Homo sapiens: one gene and its partners. The protein of the gene in region 2 interacts with the protein of the main gene of each other region in a pairwise test. Each region holds a gene or a part of one and is shown on either strand. Other genes may lie near its edges.

Region 1 (7,038 bases), on a different chromosome or scaffold from region 2:
AAATTTTCATAAGATGGATTTTCATTTGGTATTTAGTTAGTATATTTTTGTCAAAGAGAGAGGAGATTCTTTTACTGATACCATGCAACCATGGTGGGAATTGGGAATGGGTGTGACATCTCACTAAGCCCATTTCTAGGTGCCATTCTGGACTGCCCTTGGATAAGCTGAAACTACTGTGCCTCAAACCCCATATTAACTGCTCGTTTGCTTTATGACATTACTTTCTACTTCTCTCACTCTAGTCTCTTCGCATTTTTACAGATCTCAGTTTTATCAACAGAAGACTCTTCTGTTTCCTCATAGAAGGTTTTTTTTCCTCAGCAGTTGCTTTTCATTCAAGATTTTCTTATCTATAGTAGTAACTTTATTTGCTCCCAGGTGAGCCCTTGGGACAATCTTGGACATATTTTAATTTGTGAAAATTTAGGACCAATTCAGGATAAGTTGTATTAGTATTCTCTGATATGATGCAAGACCATAGTGTGTTATAAGGGTCTGTTTTAACAAGTCTTCTTGAATTGATCTGATATGATTTCCTACTGTGTTAACATAAGAAATAAAAGTTAATGATAGGTACGTCATTTGCCATGTTTTACAGCAGAAAGTTGCTGTTTTAAAGATAAAAATATGCTTTAACAGAATTTTCTAGTACAATGCAGCTTCTTTTTTGAATGGCTTTTTGTTCTCATTGTCATTAAATATGTGGAAGAAATCAATGCCTTTATTACTTTGAGATAAATGTTCATTTCATTTCAGTGTTTTAAAAAATTGTCCTATTGCCAGGCGCGGTGGCTCACGCCTGTAATCCCAGCACTTTGGGAGGCCGAGGCGGGCGGATCATGAGGTCAGGAGTTCAAGACCAGCCTGGCCAACGTGGTGAAACCCCATCTCTACTAAAAATACAAAAATTAGCTGGGCATAGTGGTGCGTGCCTGTAATCCCAGCTACTTGGGAGGCTGACGCAGGAGAATTGCTTGAACCCAGGAGGTGGAGGTTGCAGTGAGGTAAGACTGTGCCGCTGCACTCCAACTTGGCGACAGAGAGAGACTTCGTCTCAAAAAAAAAAAAATTGTCCTATTGTCTTCGGAGCTTCTTTTAAACTGGTGTAGAAGTTTGTCTGAAATTATTTATTTATATGACCCTTTATTTCCTTTGAATTATTTTTTTGCAGTGGTTCTCAGTGATATAATATATATATAAACATTTTTATCATGTACTGAAAGCTAAGTCCTATCTTTTTTATATGTATATGTTTTGACATTATAGCTTTCAAAGGAAGCTGAAGAATGTTATATAATTGGAATCTTTTTTTTTTTTTTTGGGAGACAGAGTCTTGCTCTGTAGCCCAGGTGGGAGTGCAGTAGTGTGATCTCGGCTCACTGGAACCTCCGCCTCCGGGGTTCGTGCAATTCTCTTGACTCAGCTTTCTGAGTAGCTGGGATTACAGGTGCGTGCCACCACACCTGGCTAATTTTTGTATTTTTAGTAGAAACAGGGTTTCACCATGTTGGCCAGGCTGATCTCGAACTCCTGACCTCGTTATCCACCCACCTTGGCCTCCCAAAGTGCTGGGATTACAGGCATGAGCCAGTGCGCCTGGCCTTAGAATCTTAAGACATGATATTGCCATATATCTCATAGGCACCCTTGAAACTGAGATTACAGTTTCCTGGACTCACAGTTCTTAAATTATCTCTTTGCTTTTGGTTGACTGTATACTTCATAAAAGTGTCATTTCTTTTTTTTTTTTTTCCTCTGGGGAAGAGGACCTTATGACTCTCCTGCTTATTTTTTCCCTATTCAAAGTTTTCTTCTTTTGTTGTTTCCTGCACATTATGGCTCCACTTCTTGTTTTATAGTATCTTACTAATTTACATTTGCTTTTTGTTATCGGGTATACTCTGTTTTCATCTCTAGTTTTTCTTAAGTTCTTAAAATCATTTTTTTTTCAGAATCAATAAGAGGGGGAATATGTACAGGTATATCTCAGAGATATTGCGGGTTAGGTTCCAGACCACTGAAATAAGGCCTATTATCACAATGAAGCAAGCTACACAAATATTCTGGTTTTCTGATGCATATATACAATATATTGTATACTACGGTATATATGCACTGGGAAACCAAAATATTTGTTGTATACAGTACAGTATATACTATACTATAGTCCATTAGGTTTGCGATCGTATTATGTCTAAAAACAATGTACGTACTTTAAGTAAAAATGCTTTACAACTAAAAAATGCTAATGATCATATGAGCCTTTAGCGAGTAGTAATCTTTTTGCTGGTGGAAGATCTTGCTTCGTTGTTGATGGCTGCTAACTGATCAGGGTGATGATTGCTGAAGGTTGGGATGTCTAAGGCAATTTGTTAAAATAGGACAACAATGAAGTTTGCCACATCAATTGACTCTTTATTTTATGAGAGATTTCTCTGTAGCATGAGATGCTGTTTGACAGCATTTTACCCACAGTACAACTTCTTTCAAAATTGGAATTGGTTTTCTCAAACCCTGCTGCTGCTTTATCAACTAAGTGTATGTAATATTCTAAACCCTTTGTTGCCATTTCAAACAATGTTCACAACATCTTCACTGGAAGTAGATTTCATCTGAAGAAACCACTTTCTTTGCTCATCCATAAGAAGCAACTCCTCATTCATTCCAGTTTTATCATGAGATTGCAGCAATTCAGTCACATCTTCAGGCTTCACTTCTAGTTCTAGATCTCTTGCTATTTCCATTCCATCTGAAGTTACTTCTTCCACTGAAGACTTGAATCCCTCAAAGTCATCCATGAAAGTTGGAATGAATGTCTTCCAAACTCCCGTTAATGTTGATATTTTGACCTCCTCCTGTGAATCAAGAATGTTCTTAATGGCATATAGAATGATGAGTTCTTTCCAGGAGGTTTTCAATTTACTTTGGCCAGATCTATCAGGGAATCACTGTGGCAGATATAGTCTTACAAAATTTATTTCTTAAATAATAAGGCTTGAAAGTTGAAGTTACTCCTTCATCTGTGGCCTGCAGAATGGATGTACTATTAGCAGGCATGAAAACAACTTTAATCTCCTTGTATATGTTCATTGGAGCTCTTGGGTGACTAGGTGCATTGTCAATGAGTAGTAATATTTGGAAAGGAATCTTTTTTTTTTTTTTCTGAGTAGTAGTTCTCAACAGTGAGCTTAAAATATTCAGTAAACCATGCTGTAAACGGATGTGCTGTCACCCAGGCTTTTGTTGACCTACTTTTAGAGCATGGACAGAATAGATTTAGCATAATTCTTAAAGACCCTAGGATTTTTGGAAGGGTAAATGAGCATTGGCTTCAACGTAAAGTCACCAGCTACATTCACCCATTAGCCTCTAAGAAGCGTCAGCCTGTCCTTTGAAACTTTGAAATGAGGCATTGATTTCTCTCTAGCATTTTCTTCTGATGTAAGGCTATTTTGTCTGAATTGAAAATCTGTTGTTTAGCCATTTTCATCAATTATCTCAGCTAGATCTTCTTGATAACTTGCTGTAGCTTCTTCATCAGCACTTGCTGCTTCACCTTGCACTTTTATGTTGTAAAGATGACTTCTTTCCTTTCACCTCATGAACCAACCTTTGCTGGCTTCCAGCTTTCTTCTGTGGCTTCCTCACCTCTCTCAGCCTATATAGAATTGAAGAGAGTTAGGGCCTTGCTCTGGATTAGACTTTGGTTTGAGGGGAATTACAGCTGGTTTGATCTTCTGTTCAGATCACTAAAACTTTCCCTATATCAACAGTAAGCGTGTCTCTCTTATTATTCGTGTGTTCACTGAAGTGGCCCTTTTAATTTCCTTCAAGAGTTTTTCCTTTGCATTCACAACTTGGCTATTTGGTGCAAGAGGGCTGCCTAGCTTTTGGCTTATCTCAGCTTTCAACATAACTTCCTCACTAAGCTTAATCATTTTCTAGCTTTGAGTGTGAGAAATGTGTAACGTTTCCTTTCACTTGAACACTGAGAGGCCATGGTAGAGTTATTAATTGGCCTAACTTTAATATTGTTGTGTCTCCAGGAATAGGGGGACCTGAGGAGAGGGAGAGAGATGGGGCAATGACCAGTTGGTAGAGGAGTCAGATAACACACAACATTTACAGATTAAGTTTGCTGTCTTATGTGGGTATGATTTGTGGCGCCCCAAAACAATTACAATGAACATCAAAGATCACTGATTACAGATCACTGTAACAAATAAAAGACTAATGAAAAAGTTTGAAATATTGTGAGAATTACCAAAATGTGACGCAGAGACATGAAGTGAATATATCCTGTGGAAAATTGCCAGTGATAGACTTGTTTGACACAGGGTTGTCACAAACTTAATTTGTGAAAAACGTGTTGTCTGCAAAGTGCAGTAAAGCAAAGTGCAATAAAATGAGCTATGCCTGTACCTGACTTCATTGAGTGGCCTTGTGTGGTTATTTTATTCCTTTTGCAAGCATTTTACCAAATTTGTATTTGAATTTTCATGTTTGCCATACCAGTAATATATGGAGAGCTTGTCTTTTTTTTTTTGAGACGGAGTTTTGCTCTGTTGCCCAGGCTGGAGTGCAGTTGCGCAATCTCGGTTCACTGCAACCTCCACCTCCTGGGTTCAGGCGATTCTCCTGGCTCAGCCTGCCGAGTAGCTGGGATTACAGGCGCCTGCCACTGTGCCTGGCTAATTTTTTCATTTTTGGAAGAGAGGGGATTTCACCATGTTGGGCAGGCTGACCTCAAACTCCTGACCTCAGGTGATTCATCTGCCTCCACCTCTGAAAGTGCTGGGATTACAGGCATGAGCCACTGCATATGGCTGCACATGTTTTTTCTGTTTTCCAAAACTTCAAGTTTTTTTTTTAATCTCTTCACAGCCATAAAACTCAAAAGAATTAAGCACTGAATCATCCTAGAGAAAGATGGGAAAACACAGTTTTCAAACTTTTGCATTTTCTGTAAGTCAAAGTAAAATAGACAATTTACTAAAGTTTTTTTTTTTAATTTAAAATTCCCCAATTAAAAAAATTAGCTGGGCTTGTTGGCATGTGCCTATAGTCCCAGTTACTTGGGAGGCTGAGACTGGAGGATTGCCTGAGCCCAGGAGTTTGAGACTGCAGTGAGCTGTGATTGTGCCACTGAACTCCAGCCTGGGTATCCCATATCTTTTTTATTTTAAAAGAAATTCCCCGTAGGGACAATTTTGACCTTGGATAAGCTATAGACTCTTGATATTGTAAAATATTAATTAATCCAGGAGGCATAAATAGAATGAATTCCAGAATGAGAAATAGAAGAATACTTTTTGTGTTTAACTACTGATTAGGAGTTTGCTATGAAGCAACTTAGTGAGGAAGACGTAGAGATAAAATGATCTGTTAATTGATTTTATTTTACATATCTATTGGGAGAGTACAAAGCATATGCTAATGACTTGATACTAGAAAATGTGTGAACTTCTGGGTTTTTGGAAATCTGCTCAAGTGTTTTTATTTATGATAGAATATTTGATTTCTCCCTTAGGCCTATTATTGTTTACTTTTGTGGGTAGAAGAATCTAGTCAGTGAGGTATGCACAAAACATTGGATTTTACTTATTTATTTTTAAAAAACTTCAACTTTTTCTTAGATTCAGTGAGTACATGTGCTGATTTGTTACATGAGTATATTGTGTGATGCTGAGGTTTTGGATATGAATGATTCTGTCACCTAGGTATTGAGCATAGTACTCAATAGGTGGTTTTTTAGCCCTTGCCCCACTAGTCCCTTGCGTAGTGTCTATTGTTCCTGTCTTTATGTCCATGTATACCCAATTCTTAGTTCCCACTTGTAAGAACATGCGGTATTTTGTTTTCTGTTTCTGTGTTAATTTGCCTGGGATAAACATTGGGTTTTTAAAATGTTGGATTAAGGCATTCTGTTCATTCATGCCTTTGTCAATAAGTAAATTTCTCACTGTTCTGTAAAATACATTTACTGAACTATACGAATACTATACTTTCTTAAATATATATTCTCCTTATATGCTTATTTCTTAATACTATGTTACCATGTCAGTGATTACAAAATATTTTTTAGTATAAGGGAGAGATTTTTTTTTTGATTGGGATAAGGGAATGTGTTCTCCAGCTACAATTCTTGCCCAGGAATTTATGGCAGTCAAGACACAAGTATTTCTATATCCTCAATGTAGGTTGCTTTGTCAGCAAAGGATCATGAGTTTTATCCAGTCTCTTCTGTCCAGTTAGTCATTCTGAATTCCAACTAATAAGCTTTCCGCATGGGTTCAATTTTTAGTAAGTTTTCAAAGCTATTTCAAGAATTATGGCCAAATCACCTTCATTATGAAACGATTCTCCTGACCTCCTTTATTTTAGGATTTAAGATCAAGAGGAATGGTATAGTATAATAAAGTAGAAAATCCTGTGAAAATGAATTATTAAATTTAAACTTTCAAAGATTATGGGTAAGATTTTTGTAACCCATTTCTTCTGGTAACACCATTTTGCTAGCCACTGAGGCCCTAATTTAGGATACAATTTTGAAGCTTCTATCAGGGGCTTATCATTTTGAAGGACTGTGACATCTTTATCATTAAAAGCATGGTAATACTTGGAATAAACCTATTAAGTTCTGTTCTATTTAAACATCTCTCATAGGTAATAAACAAGCTAAAATTCTTTTAAAAGGTAAACTGGTGTATATATGGTGTAAACTGGTGTATATATTTAAGGCAATGACTCTACTTTCATTTATTTATTCAATCATTTATCCATTCAACAAAGGTGTATTATGAGTGCCTGCTATGTGCCAGGCATAGTGCCAGATGCATGTTTGAAGTAGCAAATGATATTCAATCTCTGCCTGTATGAATCTTAAAATATATTAGGAAGACAGATGCAAAAACAGGCAATTTCAATGCTGTGTGGTGAGGTTAACGCTCTTTGTCAAGAAAACAGACAAGGAACACTCAATCCCACTAGGGAAGATGTAATATTTAAGATGAGATACAGAAGATGAATAGAAGT
Region 2 (7,082 bases):
CTAGGCAAAAGTTTTTGTCATCATTTGCTCCCTTCATCACCTCACCCCCAAAAAACTAAAAAACAACCAAATACGGGGCCCCTTGCTGAATTTCAGTCTCCCCACCTGTAAAATGGGGGTAATCCCTTTATCATTTGTCCTAGACTCCTGGAAGATTTCATTAGAAAGGGTTTGGGGGTAACTACAGACCCTTCCTAAATCAGACAAGCCCCAGAAGTTTCTCTATTCATTAGGAACCCAATAAGGTAAGGAATGGTCTATCCAGCTAGAGGCAAAATGCACTGGAAACTGGGGAGGATGAAGGAAAACAAGCTTAGCCAGCTCGAGCCCCAACATCAGCTGGAAGAGATGATGTTAGGTGTCAGGCAGCCGCTGAAAGCAGGTACTAACATGAGAAAGTCTGGGAGTCTGGCCTGTAGCAGCTCCAGCCCCTCACCAGCAGGAATCAAGACAAGACAAGCCCATGGCCTACCTCGGTGGTGGGTGTGGCTAGGAATCCCTATCCCCAGCGACATCTGTAGCGCCCTCTCTTTGGCAAGGAGTCCCAAGCTGAAAGATGTACAGCCTTAGGCTTTTTGAGTCTTCATTTCTTTTCCAAAAATCCCCTGTACTCAGCTCTGATGGGGGTGGGGAGAGTTCAGGAATAGAAGGCAACATGGAGGATTGCAAAGTTCCTCGTCTAAGATTAGCCTAGGAACTCACAAATTCGTTGTGTGACCTTGGGCAAGTCCCCTCCCTTCTTGGGGCTTCAGAGTCCCCGGTTTGTAATGAAGAGGTTGGACCAAGTCAATACTAAGGTTCCTCTCCTGGCCATCATTCTACAGCTACATACAAGCTCACTCGTTGGATGTGAGCCCCCTGGCACAAAACTCAGCGGGCCCTGCCTGCCAGATCAGTGGGGCAGTGGCGGGTGGGAGATGCGGGGGCTGTATGTGAGGCCGTTCATCCTATGTTCATGTTCCTTTTAGAAACACCTGCCACCCTAGCCCTCCCAGCTCCCTTTTTAGACCCTGATTCACTGCCAACTCACGAAGCCTCTCCCTCCCCTCCCTCCTCTCTTCTCCCCCCACCCCCCACTCTTTTAGGCATTGGCAGCTGGGTGCAGAAGTAGCCCCAGCATTCAGGGAATGCTGCGCAGTGGTAGAGGGCAGTGCCCCCAGGGTCAGAGAGAGCACACCAGGAAGTACCACTCTCTAACCTTGGCCCAGCCCAGTTCTTTGGGTCACTGAAAGACCTGGGCTGAGGTCTTTCTGTACCACTAACTAGCAGTGTGTGGTTGTGGAAAATGCAATTCATTTCTCAAGCCTCAACATCTTCATCTGTAAATCGGCATTATATTTGGTTGAACCATATGAAATTGCTGTTTTTGTAGGTTAAATAAAAACAGTTGAATATTGCAGTTGCATATGGCTTAACGTGATACCTGTCCTGCCTGCTTCCCAAGGCTGTTGGGGAAATAAGAAGAGTTCAGAGGGCAGCATTTTCAAAAGCCCTGAACTAATATGAGGGCATTATTTTATTATTATTACTTCAAAGAGCTTAGTACAGACCCACCCGGAGCCAGTGGACTGAACCAATAACCCAGAACTTGAAGGTTTGGGACTTGGAAGTCTGGGAGAGCGCCACCTGCTCTGATGACTAACAGGGCAGACGCTTCCACCTGGCCTCCTCATCTCCTAGCTCTAAAAGGCCCTTGGTGAAACATTATTGAGATGACACAAGTTCCCAGGCCCCCAAAAGGAGAAGCAGCACACGCAGGCACATACTCCAGCTCGCCCCAGATCCCCCCTCCCACCCACCAGGGGCCTTAGCATGCAGGAAGGACACGACCAGCAACATCCCAGAGGGCACCCCCTGAGGTAGGTGAAGGTAGAGACCAAGCTGGGGAGTGCCACAAAGCTCTTGCCTGAATCAAGGGTCAGGGGTCCCCAGAGAAGTGGGGAATGATCTGACCTCGGAAAAGTCTCATCTCCCTGTCCCATATCCCACCAGGAATGGGGGGACAGTGGGGGGGACAGAGCCCAGGTGTGGGTGATTCAGAGTGAACCGCGCTCAGATACACTCTCTCTCACACAGCCAACGCACGCGCGCGCACACGCACACACACACACACACAGTCACACAGGGCAGATACCGGGACCCACTCACAGAGACAGTCACGCCGGCACACACATCCATTCACACACTCACAGACACACACAGGCACACATGGGGACAACACACACTCATTCACTCACATGTCCACAGATGCATACACAGTACCACCCTCCACACTCACGCTGCATACACCCACTAACATGCACACACACTCTCGCCCACAGTGACACACGCACACACTCACGGCATACACTCACCGGCACACACAATCGCCCACAGACCCACACAGTGACACACTCGGCACAGACACACAGCGACACGCACTCACATTCACACACCTGCAGAGGAAACTTCTCTCCGGATCTCCCCAGCACCACGACTTCCCCCACAACCAGCTGGCTACTCCCTCCCAGACCCGAGCCTCCAGCCGGGCGAGGGCTGGGCCGGGGCTGGCCTGTCCCCGCGGCCCTGACCGGGAGCGTGGGTCCGCGGTCCGCGTGGTCCCCTGCCCGCCCCTCGGGTCGGGCCCGCGGGCAGCCAGGCCGGGGCAGGAGCGGGGGCAGCTGAGGAGGCCCAGCCCCTCCCCCCTCCCGGGGCCGGGAGCCGAGCGCCGGAGCCCGGGGCGTGGGCGGCGCCGGGGCCGCAGCCGGGCCGTGCCTGGGGGGCGCTGCAGAGGGAGCCGCGAGCGCGGCCCCGTCCCCACTCCTCCCCGCGGCTTACCTGGCCCGGCTCGGGCTCCGGCCGGGTTACATGGTGCCGGCGGCCCGGGCCGGGGGCGCTGCGGCGTTGGGCAGGCGGGCAGGGACCGGGGCCCGGCACTGCGGAGCCCCCAGCTGAGGGGCCGCGCCGGCTGCGGAGCCCCAAGCGAGCGCCGAGCGGCAGCGGGCGCGGGAGCGGGAGGCGGCCAAGCCACGGAGGCTGGATTTCCCGGGGACCGGGAAGGGGAGGCGGGGGGATCCCGCCCGCGCGCTCCGCCCCCGCCCCCGCCCCCGCGCAGGGCAGCCGAGCAGGGAGAGGGAGAGGGAGAGGAAGAGGGAGGGGGACCGAGCTCCCCGCCCCCGCGCGGACCCAGGAGGGCCGAGGTCGCCGCCCGCGGGCGGCCGCCGGGGTCCCGGAGGAGCGCCCACCTCGCTGAGCGACGGTGCTGGGGGCGCCCAGCGTAGGGGCAGGAATGAGATCCCCCTCCCCGGGGACCCAGGAACAGGCACCCGAAGTGTCACGGCCACGCACAGCCGACCTGGGTACAGGGACCCAAGCCCGGCGGCGGGCGGGCGGTCGGGGACCAGCTCAGCCTCACGGACCGGGTCTCGCCCCCCGCCGAGGGGCAGTCACGCCCTGAATGTCACACACAGCCCCCAGGCCCGTCCGCTTAGGAGACTCTCCTTCGGGCTTTCCCGGTCGGCCGCCTGACCTCAGCTCCTGGCTTGGGGTCAGGGAGCCCCCCTCTTCGGCCCCAGCCCCTGCCAGGATGGGGCGCTGTGCCCGGCCTCGGAGCCGCTGGCAGGCGTCCCCCACCCACAGTCCGCACAGCCGAGGCATCCCCAGTGTGGAGGGAGAGCCCCGCTGTACCTGCCGCCTGTGCTGGGCCCCCGCCCGTGCCCACTGTGCCCGCCCGCCTCTGGGCCCTGAGCCTGGGATTGTGCCATGGCGGGGTCGGGGTGGGGGGAAAGGGACTGTCCGAAGCACAGCTGGAGGCTGCGGAGCCCGGACACAGGCTGCGGGAGCCGAGAGGCGGAGAGCGGACTGCAGCAGTCCCCTGGCTTGAATCCGTCTTGGCGCCCAGAGCGATGCTGTAATGGGGGGGAGGGGGCCACGGTGGGGAAGCCGCAGGGGGAGGGGCTGAAGACGTGGGGGAAGGGGTGGCTCCGGATTCCGGCTTTCCAGGGTAGGTGTGAGGAAACACTGCCTCCGGCGCTGAAAGTTGGGGGTGGAGGTTCAGTGGGCATCCTTAAAGCCCTCTTCCCTCCTCTACCTTTTCCGGTCTTGAAAGCTTGGGATGGTGAGGTGTGGGCTTGGGAGGCTTGAGACTGCCCACCTCTCTAGGAACATACCTTGGAGTTGTTCTGATTCAACGGCCCCCACCCCGCACCCCAACAACTCCCTGCTCTCTGTTTCCTTGTGGGGCCACCGGCTCTCCTCCCTGTATAAAGGGGAAAGTGAGGCACGGAAAGGAGAAGCCAAAGGCCCAGAAGAGCTAGAACTGGGAGCCAAGACCTCTTTTCCCCAGGGAGATGATGTTTTAAGATGCCACATTACATTAAATAACATAAGGGGCTTGGAGAGCCCTCTTCCCAAGGGATACCTAGAAGTCTGGTAAGAGACTAGTAGATTGGTCACCTACCCTGCTGCTCACAAGAACGGTTCATTGTCTCTTCAATCATGAAGTGAGGTTGCAGACCATTTCCAGCCCAGGGTTCAGTCAAGAGCAGATGTCATGAAAATAAGAAAGTTGTTCCCAGGAACCCACTTTAGAACTGAAGGAAACATCTCACTTTCCGTGGAGCATAAGAACAGCCGTTGGGCCGAGCGCAGTGGCTCATGCTTATAATCCTAGCACTTTGGGAGGCCAAGGCGGGTGGATTACCTGAGGTCAGGAGTTCAACACCAGCCTGGCCAACATGGTAAAATCCCGTCTCTACTAAAATTACAAAAAATTAGCCGAGTGCAGTGGCACGTGCCTGTAATCCCAGCTACTCAGGAGGCTGAGGCAGGAGAATTGCTTGAACCCGGGAGGCACAGGTTGCAGTGAGCTGAGACTGTGCCACACTGCAGCCTGGGCAACAGAGCCAGATTCAGTCTTAAAGAAAAAAAAAAAAAAGGATGAGCTGACGGCCGGGCACAGTGGCTCACGCCTGTAATCCCAGCACTTTGGGAGGCTAAGGCAGACGGATCACCTGAGGTCGGGAGTTCGAGATCAGCCTGGCCAACATGGTGAAACCCTGTCTCTACCCGAAATACAAAAATTAGCCCGGTGTGGTGTTGGGCGCCTGTAATCCCAGCTACTCAGAGGCTGAGGCAGGCGAATCACTTGAATCCGGGAGGCAGAGGTTGCAGTGAGCAGAGATTGCACCATTGCACTCCTGCCTGGAACTCCGTCTCAAAAAAAAAAAAAAAAAAAAAAAGAACAGCCGTGATAGAGGATGTTAAAAAGCACCACCGTGTTTTCGCAGTTCTAAGACCTGTATTTTGTAAACTATTCTGAAACTGGAAAGCATCTTACAATAAACAGGGACATTTAATATGGCTCTTCTTACCTTTCTGTTAAAGCTATTAGAGTTGGTGCATTTTAGAATTGAGAACATAATGTTATTTTCATTTGTTCATTCAACAACCCTTTACTGATTATACCTGGCACCTTGCTAGCCTCTTGGGGGCATACAGGTTAATCAGACAGGCTTACCTTAGACAGTGTTCTCCCATAGCCATCCAGTGATTAATAACTGATTAATAAGGGAGATGGAGATGTAAACCAATAATTACTATCAGGGCCAGCTTCATGGGAGTGTGACCTGTGCAGTCGTACAGAGCCCCACATGTAGAAAGGCATCACTCTTGGTAGAATATTCTGCTGTCACTGTCTTAAAATTGTTAATAATTTTTGGACAAGGGGCTCACCCTGGGCCTAGCTCTGCCTAGGTGAAGAGGACAGTCAAAGAAGCACAAAAAGCTGGGCGCGGTGGCTCACGCCTGTAATCCCAGCACTTTGGGAGGCCAAGGCAGGCAGATCATGAGGTCAGGAGATCGAGACCATCCTGGCAAACACAGTGAAACCTCGTCTCTACTAAAAGTACAAAAACAAAATTAGCTGGGCATGGTGGCGGGCATCTGTAGTCCCAGCTACTCGGGAGGCTGAGGCAGGAGAATGGCATGAACCCAGGAGGTGGAGCTTGCAGTGAGCAGAGATCACGCCACTGCACTCCAGCCTGGACGACAGAGCAAGACTCCATCTCAAAAAAAAAAAAAAGAAGCACAAAAGAAGCATTTGAATGGAGTCTCAAAGATTGGGAGAGAGACTTTCAGGTAGAGAGTCACATGTGCAAAGACAGAGACTCAGTGTCAATCAGTATGACAGTTGCCTTAGTTGATCTTCCCACTGAAAGCATGATAAATAGCAAAAAAAAAAAAAAAAGATAAAATATTTTTATTAAAACACAATAAAGAAGAGAATATATATGTATAACTATGTACATTTTTAATATTCTTAAATGTATCAATGTGCTGGCAAGAAAATAAGAATCACTCCAGCCAAAATCTAGGTAAAGGCAGAACCAGAGAAGTAAGCAGAGCACTGAAGCCAACTTTAGCCTTGGGGGCTGTGAAAGATGTGTTGCAAAAAGGGCACCAATTCTCTACCTCCACCCGAATCCATCTCCTTTGCCCTGTGACTTTGCAACTCCCTGCATCAACAGGTGGACTCTTTGGAACAAGGATCTCTGAGGAGAAAAAAAAAAAAAAAGAGGCAGACCCTACTTTCCCACCCCTTAAATCTGAGTGGACTTGTAACTTGCTTTCGCCAATGGAATCTGGAAGAAGTCATGTAGTGCCAGTTCTGAGCTTAGGCCTTCAGAGACATGAATACTTCTACTATTTCTCTTGGTCTCCTGCCTTCACTATAAGAACAAGCCTCAAGCCTGAGACAGCTGGAGGATGAGTGACAAGGTGGAAGAGAGCTATACCATCCCAACTGTCCCAGCCAAGATCATCATGGACCCGCCTATAGCCAGCAGATCTCCAAACATGTGAGAGAGCCCAGGCAAGAGCAGCAGAGATATCTACCTGTCCACAGCTGACTGCAGACACATTAGTGAGACCAGCTGAATGAGAAGAACTGTCGAGCCAATTTGAAGACTCTTGAGCAATAATGAATGCTTATTAATTTAAGCTACTGAGCTTTGGTATGGTATGGTATTATGCCGCAATATTATGGCATTTAATAACTAATACAGGGTCATTTGCTGACAGATGAAATTTAACTTCAGTTTTCA
Region 3 (7,038 bases), on a different chromosome or scaffold from region 2:
AAGGACTGAAAGTCTGGGATAGGACAGACAATTACTTTCATTTTATACTTGTTGACATTATTTGCTTTAAAAAAGTTAAACCATGTACATTATTACTTTATAAATTAAAAACTCTAGTAAATAATTAAAAACAGCCGACCACCCATGGTCCTGATATAAGGACCCAGGCCTGCGACTCAGCTCTTGAGTCTGCTTATCTCAAAGAGGTCATAGGCACTTCTGGTAGCCCATAATAAGATAAAGTGAATTTCACCACATAAGCATGGTGCTAGTTCCTATTAATTTCAGAGAGATGAGTATAAATTGTGGGAATTAGGGTAAACTCAAGAGGTTTTCGACTAGAAGTACTTTAAGCATCACAGCATTCTGCATTTTGCTATGCTAGGCAAAAAACAAAAACCAATTCCCTCATCCCCAAACACAAACCAAATGCAAAGACCACTTTGATTACTTGTGGAGTAAATGGGGGGCAAAGGAAAAGTGAGAATGGGGTAGCCAAGCTGATAGCAGGCACACAACGAATATTTTCAGAAAAGTACAAATTACCATAATGTAAATTAGGGATTTCAAAGTACCTTTTTTCTGCTATGTCATGCTTTTAGAAGAAGCTGTATATAAAAAATGCATCCAAATTTGTTTCTATGAATCATACAGTGGATACTGCACAGTGAGTTTGTGATACCATTTAATATCAAGAACTTGGTCCAAATATTTGATTTTCATTTGGACACTATGAAGATATGGCTATTTAATTAGCAATGTTTATTTTAATCTTAAGCAATGCAAGAAATTAAAATACCTTGCCAACATTTAATTATGAGAATTCAAGTGCTATTTTGTAACAATGCCTTGAGAAGGTCAAATTTAAGATTGTTTGGCTATCATATGAATTTCCCTTTTAGTACCGGGAACCTAAGACTTTGTAGAGTGCTGCTCACAAATGCCTGGTGTTTGCTGTCCGTTTCCAAACAAGGAATCAACAATGTGATACTTCCTTGAAGGAAAAACACCTGCAGACAGGGCCAAATAAATCATAAAAGGTGCTTCTTTCTTTCAGCTTTGACAGCCTTCACTTGCATTTCAAACTGAGAGTTTCAGGCTGTTTTGAGTGCTTTGAATAGGCAACCACATGTTTGTCACACGTGTGTCCTTCATGCATGAGTTCCTCATTGTCCTGTTCCTTCTGACCCACCCATGCTGAAGCTTCGATGTTTACACTCGCCAGACATTTAGTGAGCAGATGTTGGGCTACAACACTACCACTGGGTTAGGTAGTAGTATTATCCCATTGTAACAGATGACATGGCTGAGGCTCATTGACTTTCAGTGTCCTAAGTCCACAAATTGGCAAATGGGAAAACCAGGGCTTAGCCTGATCCTTTTCCTTTACACTCTTTTTTCGAGATAGTATCCTCTTTATCTATGGCCCCTTCCCTCCCTTCTCTCTCTAGGTTCACTGGTCATCCAGAGCAAAGCAGCAGAGGTGTGGAGAAGGGGCCCTGTGCTTTACCCCATTCCCTTCCCCACAGAAAAGGTAGAGGGGAAGAAACATTCAGGGCTCAGAGCTTCTACCACACTTGGCACTGTTCCTATTTCCATACTTTGCCCGGGACACTCAGGCCAGAACTTCAGCCCTCACCCTGTTCTGTAACTTTCTTCCCAGATCATGGGAGGCACTATGGGTAATTGTTGCTAGTGCAGTTCCTGTAGTAGCAGAAGTGTCCTGAACAGCATCATTCCAAACTGTGAAAAGATTTTTCTACAGCAGCACAGCTCCCACAGCTCTCACAGTTCATGGTCCTTCTGAGTATTGTCAAGACTGTGCTTGGGCTTAGTAGGGGTTGAACTGGCTTCCACCTGCTAGCCTGGAAACCTAAGCACGATTAAAAGCGTTGCTTCCATCGTAAAAGCAGGTTTCTTAATTAAATCAATGGGAAACCAGTTTGAGTTCTCCATGACCGATACATGAATGAATTTTTGAAACAAAATACATTCATAGTTGGGGATTTAATCTTTACCCTCCAACTTTCTATCAATATGTCTGTAAGACTGAAAGAACTATTATTATTGTGTTTAATACAAAATAGAAAAAGACATATTCTGAATTCAAAAACAAAGTTTCCTTTAATTCATGTTTTTCTCTCTCACTCTTTAAGCTTTATTTTTTAAAGTATAATTTCATTCAACTCCAAGGAAATCTGCATTTTAACAATATTATTAAATGATCCTACTATTTTACCCACATATTTTATTGCTGAGCCAGTGTTTGTCTTACCTCCTCGATGGATAATCAAAGAAGTTTCACTTCCAATGGGACAGTCCTTAAGTATATCCACTACTTCTGTATGGCTCAGGTTCTGTACATTCTGCTGGTTGATCTCAACAATGAGGTCGCCTTCACACAGGCCAGGGCATCCCTGAATGTCAAGTATTTGTTTCACCCGCTGTCCTGTAGGACTGTCGGCAATAGTGAAGCCGAAGCCCTGGGCACCTTTCACAATGGTTAAGGTCATAAGTTCAGCTTGGGTGGCCCCAGATGAAGCCATAGACACATTGTCATCATGGACGGGCGGTGGATACGTGCCGTCTAGCTGACCATCAGTTGGCATGGAGTGCAGAGAATGAGGCGGCCGATCTGTTATATCTGGAACTGACTGTGAGGTCCGAGAAATGTACTCCAAATATGTTTCATAGTTGTGTCTTCCATTGACCATCACTGGAGGTGGCCTCTCCATTATTGCAAGGGGTGGCACCATGCTGTTAGCAGGGTCTTCAGGATCAAAGGGCAAAGGGTAGCCACGACACAACACCAGGTTGACACTCTGACCAATAGGAACAGACTGGAAAAGTTTGACAACATCTGCATGAGTGTGTCCAAGGACACAAACTTCATTAATATAGACAATGACATCACCTGTAAGAAAAAAAGAGATTGACAACATGAGGTAAGTTCAATTAACATTGACATAGAGAAATGGAATTATTTACGAGACTAGTGAGAGGTGTTGTTTCTTAGTAAGCAGTGAGAAATCAATTAGAATAATACTTAAAATCACTGTGGGTGACTCAAGGTTACAACAGGACTGCCAGCAAATACAATGATGAAGTGCTGAAAAAAAGCTATTTGGTTATTCTTGAAGTTCAGAAACAACTTCATATTCAGAAACAAAGGCTCTGAAAGAAAAGGTTAGAGGAATGTGTACCTTGAAGAAGCACATTCTCTATGCTTCTTTTTCATCTTATATTCCATCTTCAGTGTAATTCAGTTAATATAATTTTCGAACTATTGAGAAGTAGTGGTCATGAGTTTTAGACGAAAAACAAAGCCCTAGCATATTTTTTTTTGTATAAGTTGAATAAGTCAATTGCCTTTTTTCTTTTTTATGGAACAGAAAAATATTTGCCCATTTATTTTTTTCCATCTATAGCAGGTAATTACAAAGCTTCCATGTATATGCGAGCAAAGGTCAAGGGTGCAGGTTTTGGGATTAGGGAGCTGGGTTGACACCTTGGCTCTACTATTTAACAGATACATGATATTGACCAAGTTCCCTGCTTTGAGCCACAGTTCCTCATTTGTAAAGTTGTGAGAATGAAATGACATAATGTAGGAAAAGTACTTGGCATAGTGTATGACACACAGTGCTCAATAAATGTGGACTATTATTAATATGATTGTTGTTAAAATAGGATGGAGGAGATTTGGGTCCCTTGGTTTCAAACAGAAAGTTGCCACAGTTCATCCTCTGATCTTAGATAAACTAATATTTCTGTGGATCAGTTTCAATAAAGGCACTTGTCCTTTCTCCCCAGTGAACTATCACAGATTTTCAGAGGTCTACTGGTTAGAGGCTAACTTTATGATTAGAAATGCTCTGAATGCAAATTATCCATTATAAAATATATTCAGAGAAATATTTTTTCCTGCTTAAAATGCAGAAAATCATGGCTGTTTGAGATAAATGTTTTTTTAAAAATTTCAATTATGTATGAATAACAATTTTATTTTTGGAGAACTATTTTATCATGGATTGGTATTTTTATCTTCACAAACCATAATACTTGAAAATTGAGCTTGCAAATTGAGATTGTGCCTGACTATGCTGAGGAGTATATTAGGGATGAAGAGACATGTTTTCACAGATCTTGAAATAAGCAACTCAACAGACATCAGTTTATCAGAATAATTCTGGAATGGGAGGTACAAATGGCTAGGGATTTCATTCTGAGACATCCTTGCCCAGCAAGCTTGCAAACGTTAAAAATGAAAAACAGAGTTGAACTTTTAGAGTTGACAACTTTTCTGGTCTTTTGTAGGTGTATAACATAAAATGAATAAAACAATTAACAGCATTGTCTTAATTAACAGTCCCTCTTCCCAAATTGACAGAGAGGCCAAGCAGACATTTTCAGGGATCCAGGTTAGGTCTGCCTCTAGAAAATGTCACAACCTATGTGATTGGTCAGATGGAACTTCACTTTTCCATAATGTCTATCAGAGAGGGTACTGATGTGGTGGCTGGAACGTGGGTCCACGGCTCAGAACTGAATTGGAGTGGACATTCCCTCACTGTTATTATAATTCCTCTTCAGACTGTGGCAGCTGGGGATGCTTTGGGAATCGTTTTTAATTGATTCCATTCATCTCAGTGTCCCAGAGAAGTGTCTGATTCAGATAGACTATTTTTCTCTCCTGTTTCTTTTAGTTTTAATGTTATATTTTCTACATTTAAAAGGTTGAAAGAACAACAAATACTTGTATACTAACATCCAACTTAATGATTGGAACATTGCTCATATTAGTTGAATCCCCCTTGGCTAGCACCTCTCCCCCAACTTGCACTCCTTTACAGCCCTTTCCAAGGTAACCATTGCCCTATTTGAGGTTTGTTATTTACATATACCTTTATAATTTATATCATATCTAGGTGTCCGTAAAAACAATATCTCTAAATAGTATCTAATCTCTAAATAATAATAATCCCTGGAAAGTATTTTACATATTTTAAGCCTTTTGTAAATGGTATATATTTTAATATTCTGTAACTTTTCTTAAAATATGTTTGTGATATTTATCTATTTTGATACTTGTGCCTCTAGTTGATTAGTTTTCATTGTAATACAGTATTTAGTGATGGCTATATTACTACTTAATAACATTCATCCATTCTTTTGTTAATGGACACCGGAGTTATGACAAATCTGTGGCTATTGAAAATAACTCTGCTATGAACCCCATGCTGGCACAGACCATGTGCATCTTCAACTTTGTTAGATAGTGGCAAATGGCTGACAAAAGAGGTCACATTGATTTACACTCTGATCGGTAGTGTGTTGAAATTTTCATTGCTTTACATCTGACACAGTACTTCGTATTCTCAGACTTAATTTTTACCAATCTAATGGATGTGATCATAGTTTTGATTTGCATTTCCCAGACTGCCAGTGAAGGTGAGCATCTTTTCATGTTTATTGGCCTTTTGGATTTTCTCTTGGGTATGCCTCATTTCCTCAATTTCCTATTCAGTGAGTTTTTTTTAACTCATTGACTATTTTTTATGTCTACTTTCATTCTTGCTCCAACATTCTTCTTAGGTTCAGGAGGCTGCAAGGTATAGTAGAGATCACATGGGATATGAGGTCAAAAGACTTTGGTCTGAGTTCTAGTTTCATCACTTATTAGCTGTATAACTTTCCCAAACTGGCTTCAATCCTCTGTGACTCAGATTTTTTAGAAGTAATGATGAACAATAGTAATAGCAACTTATTGTTCCATGGGAAATAACGAATGAGATCATACAGGTGAAAGGGTTTCTAAGCTGTAAATTGTTATGCAAAAGATGATTGCTATTTCAGTAATTACTCTTTGTCCTTTGTTATATTCTTCTATAAAATCAGGACAGTTCTACCCAGATATTCCCACCACAGTTACAGTCAAGGATGACTTGAGTATGATTGTGGAAACAATGGGTTTCTGAATGGCCAAGTAAAAGTCAGAGAGGTAACAAATGCCACTTCCTCTAAGGCTCTCCCTAACTTTAATCACTGTTAACAGACTCCCCAGTCCCCAAGCACGCTCTCTCCTTCCCTCTGCTCTGCCAGAATTTCACGGGAAAGAACTAAGGGTTATGTTGAAAGCTCTCAAGTTTCCCTGCCAGGTCTAGAGAGTAGTAGTTTGAATTGTAGTGATTAATGTTACCTATTTTTGAGTTTTAATGTGATCTTGCTATTTAGAAACAGAGTGAGAACTATTTGTGTTTCTTAGTAAGACTGCCTTTTACAATTTATGGATATTTTCCACTAACAGCAATTTTTCAAGTCATCAGGCAAGGATAAAGAACACTGCAACAATATCTTTATGAAGATACGTAGAAGATTTCTGAATGTAAAAGATGAGTGGTCAGTTATCACAGGATAAAACTATATAACAACTTGATGGTACTCAACTGCCCACTTTAAAAAAATATATAGATGTCTAGATAATAAGTCATGCCCAAAACTCTTATAGACGGGGATGTCAGCAAACATTTGCTTGTTCAGATAGAACTTATTGGATAGAATATTAATAGACTGTGCTGTATGAATGTCATTTACATGTCGTGAAATAAAAATATAAGACACCTGGTATATGTCATCTGACGGTGCCATGCCAAGTCCTCAGACAGATTGGGTTTAAGAGCACAGAAAGGGACATCATCAGGAAGACTGGCTCTGGCTCTAACCTGTTGGCCTACTTAAGACGGAGAATTGGAAGAGTCACTTGATCTCCCCATCTCTCAATTTCTTCTTTTATAAAATGGGAATAAAAATATCTCTTACATTTCCTCTTTTGCAGAGCTACTGTGAAAATGAGATCATCCTTGTGAAAATACTTATAATTTTATCAAATTTTTTCTCCATAAAAATAAGAAGATACATTTCTTTTGAAAGCTAAGCATATATTTTCATTACTACATTGCTGGAAAATTTACTTTGTTTGCTAAATGGTCATTCACTTCAGGCCATATTTAGGTTAGTTCTAGGGCTACTGACCTCAGG

Evidence for each region. The genes of interacting proteins can lie anywhere in the genome.
Region 1: the proteins of DLGAP3 (region 2) and DLG2 interact in binary tests that used the Homo sapiens proteins (3 or more experiments, as listed by UniProt).
Region 3: the proteins of DLGAP3 (region 2) and MAGI2 interact in binary tests that used the Homo sapiens proteins (3 or more experiments, as listed by UniProt).

What each region holds. Positions count from the first base shown.
Region 1 is NC_000011.10:85,617,345-85,624,382, reverse strand, and holds part of DLG2 (disks large homolog 2), read left to right. Parts: intron 1-7,038. UniProt on the Homo sapiens protein: Required for perception of chronic pain through NMDA receptor signaling. Regulates surface expression of NMDA receptors in dorsal horn neurons of the spinal cord.
Region 2 is NC_000001.11:34,926,634-34,933,715, forward strand, and holds the start of DLGAP3 (disks large-associated protein 3), read right to left. Parts: upstream 3,018-7,082; 5' UTR 2,818-3,017; intron 1-2,817. UniProt on the Homo sapiens protein: May play a role in the molecular organization of synapses and neuronal cell signaling. Could be an adapter protein linking ion channel to the subsynaptic cytoskeleton. May induce enrichment of PSD-95/SAP90 at the plasma membrane.
Region 3 is NC_000007.14:78,253,668-78,260,705, forward strand, and holds part of MAGI2 (membrane-associated guanylate kinase, WW and PDZ domain-containing protein 2), read right to left. Parts: intron 2,915-7,038; coding exon 2,276-2,914; intron 1-2,275. UniProt on the Homo sapiens protein: Seems to act as a scaffold molecule at synaptic junctions by assembling neurotransmitter receptors and cell adhesion proteins. Plays a role in nerve growth factor (NGF)-induced recruitment of RAPGEF2 to late endosomes and neurite outgrowth.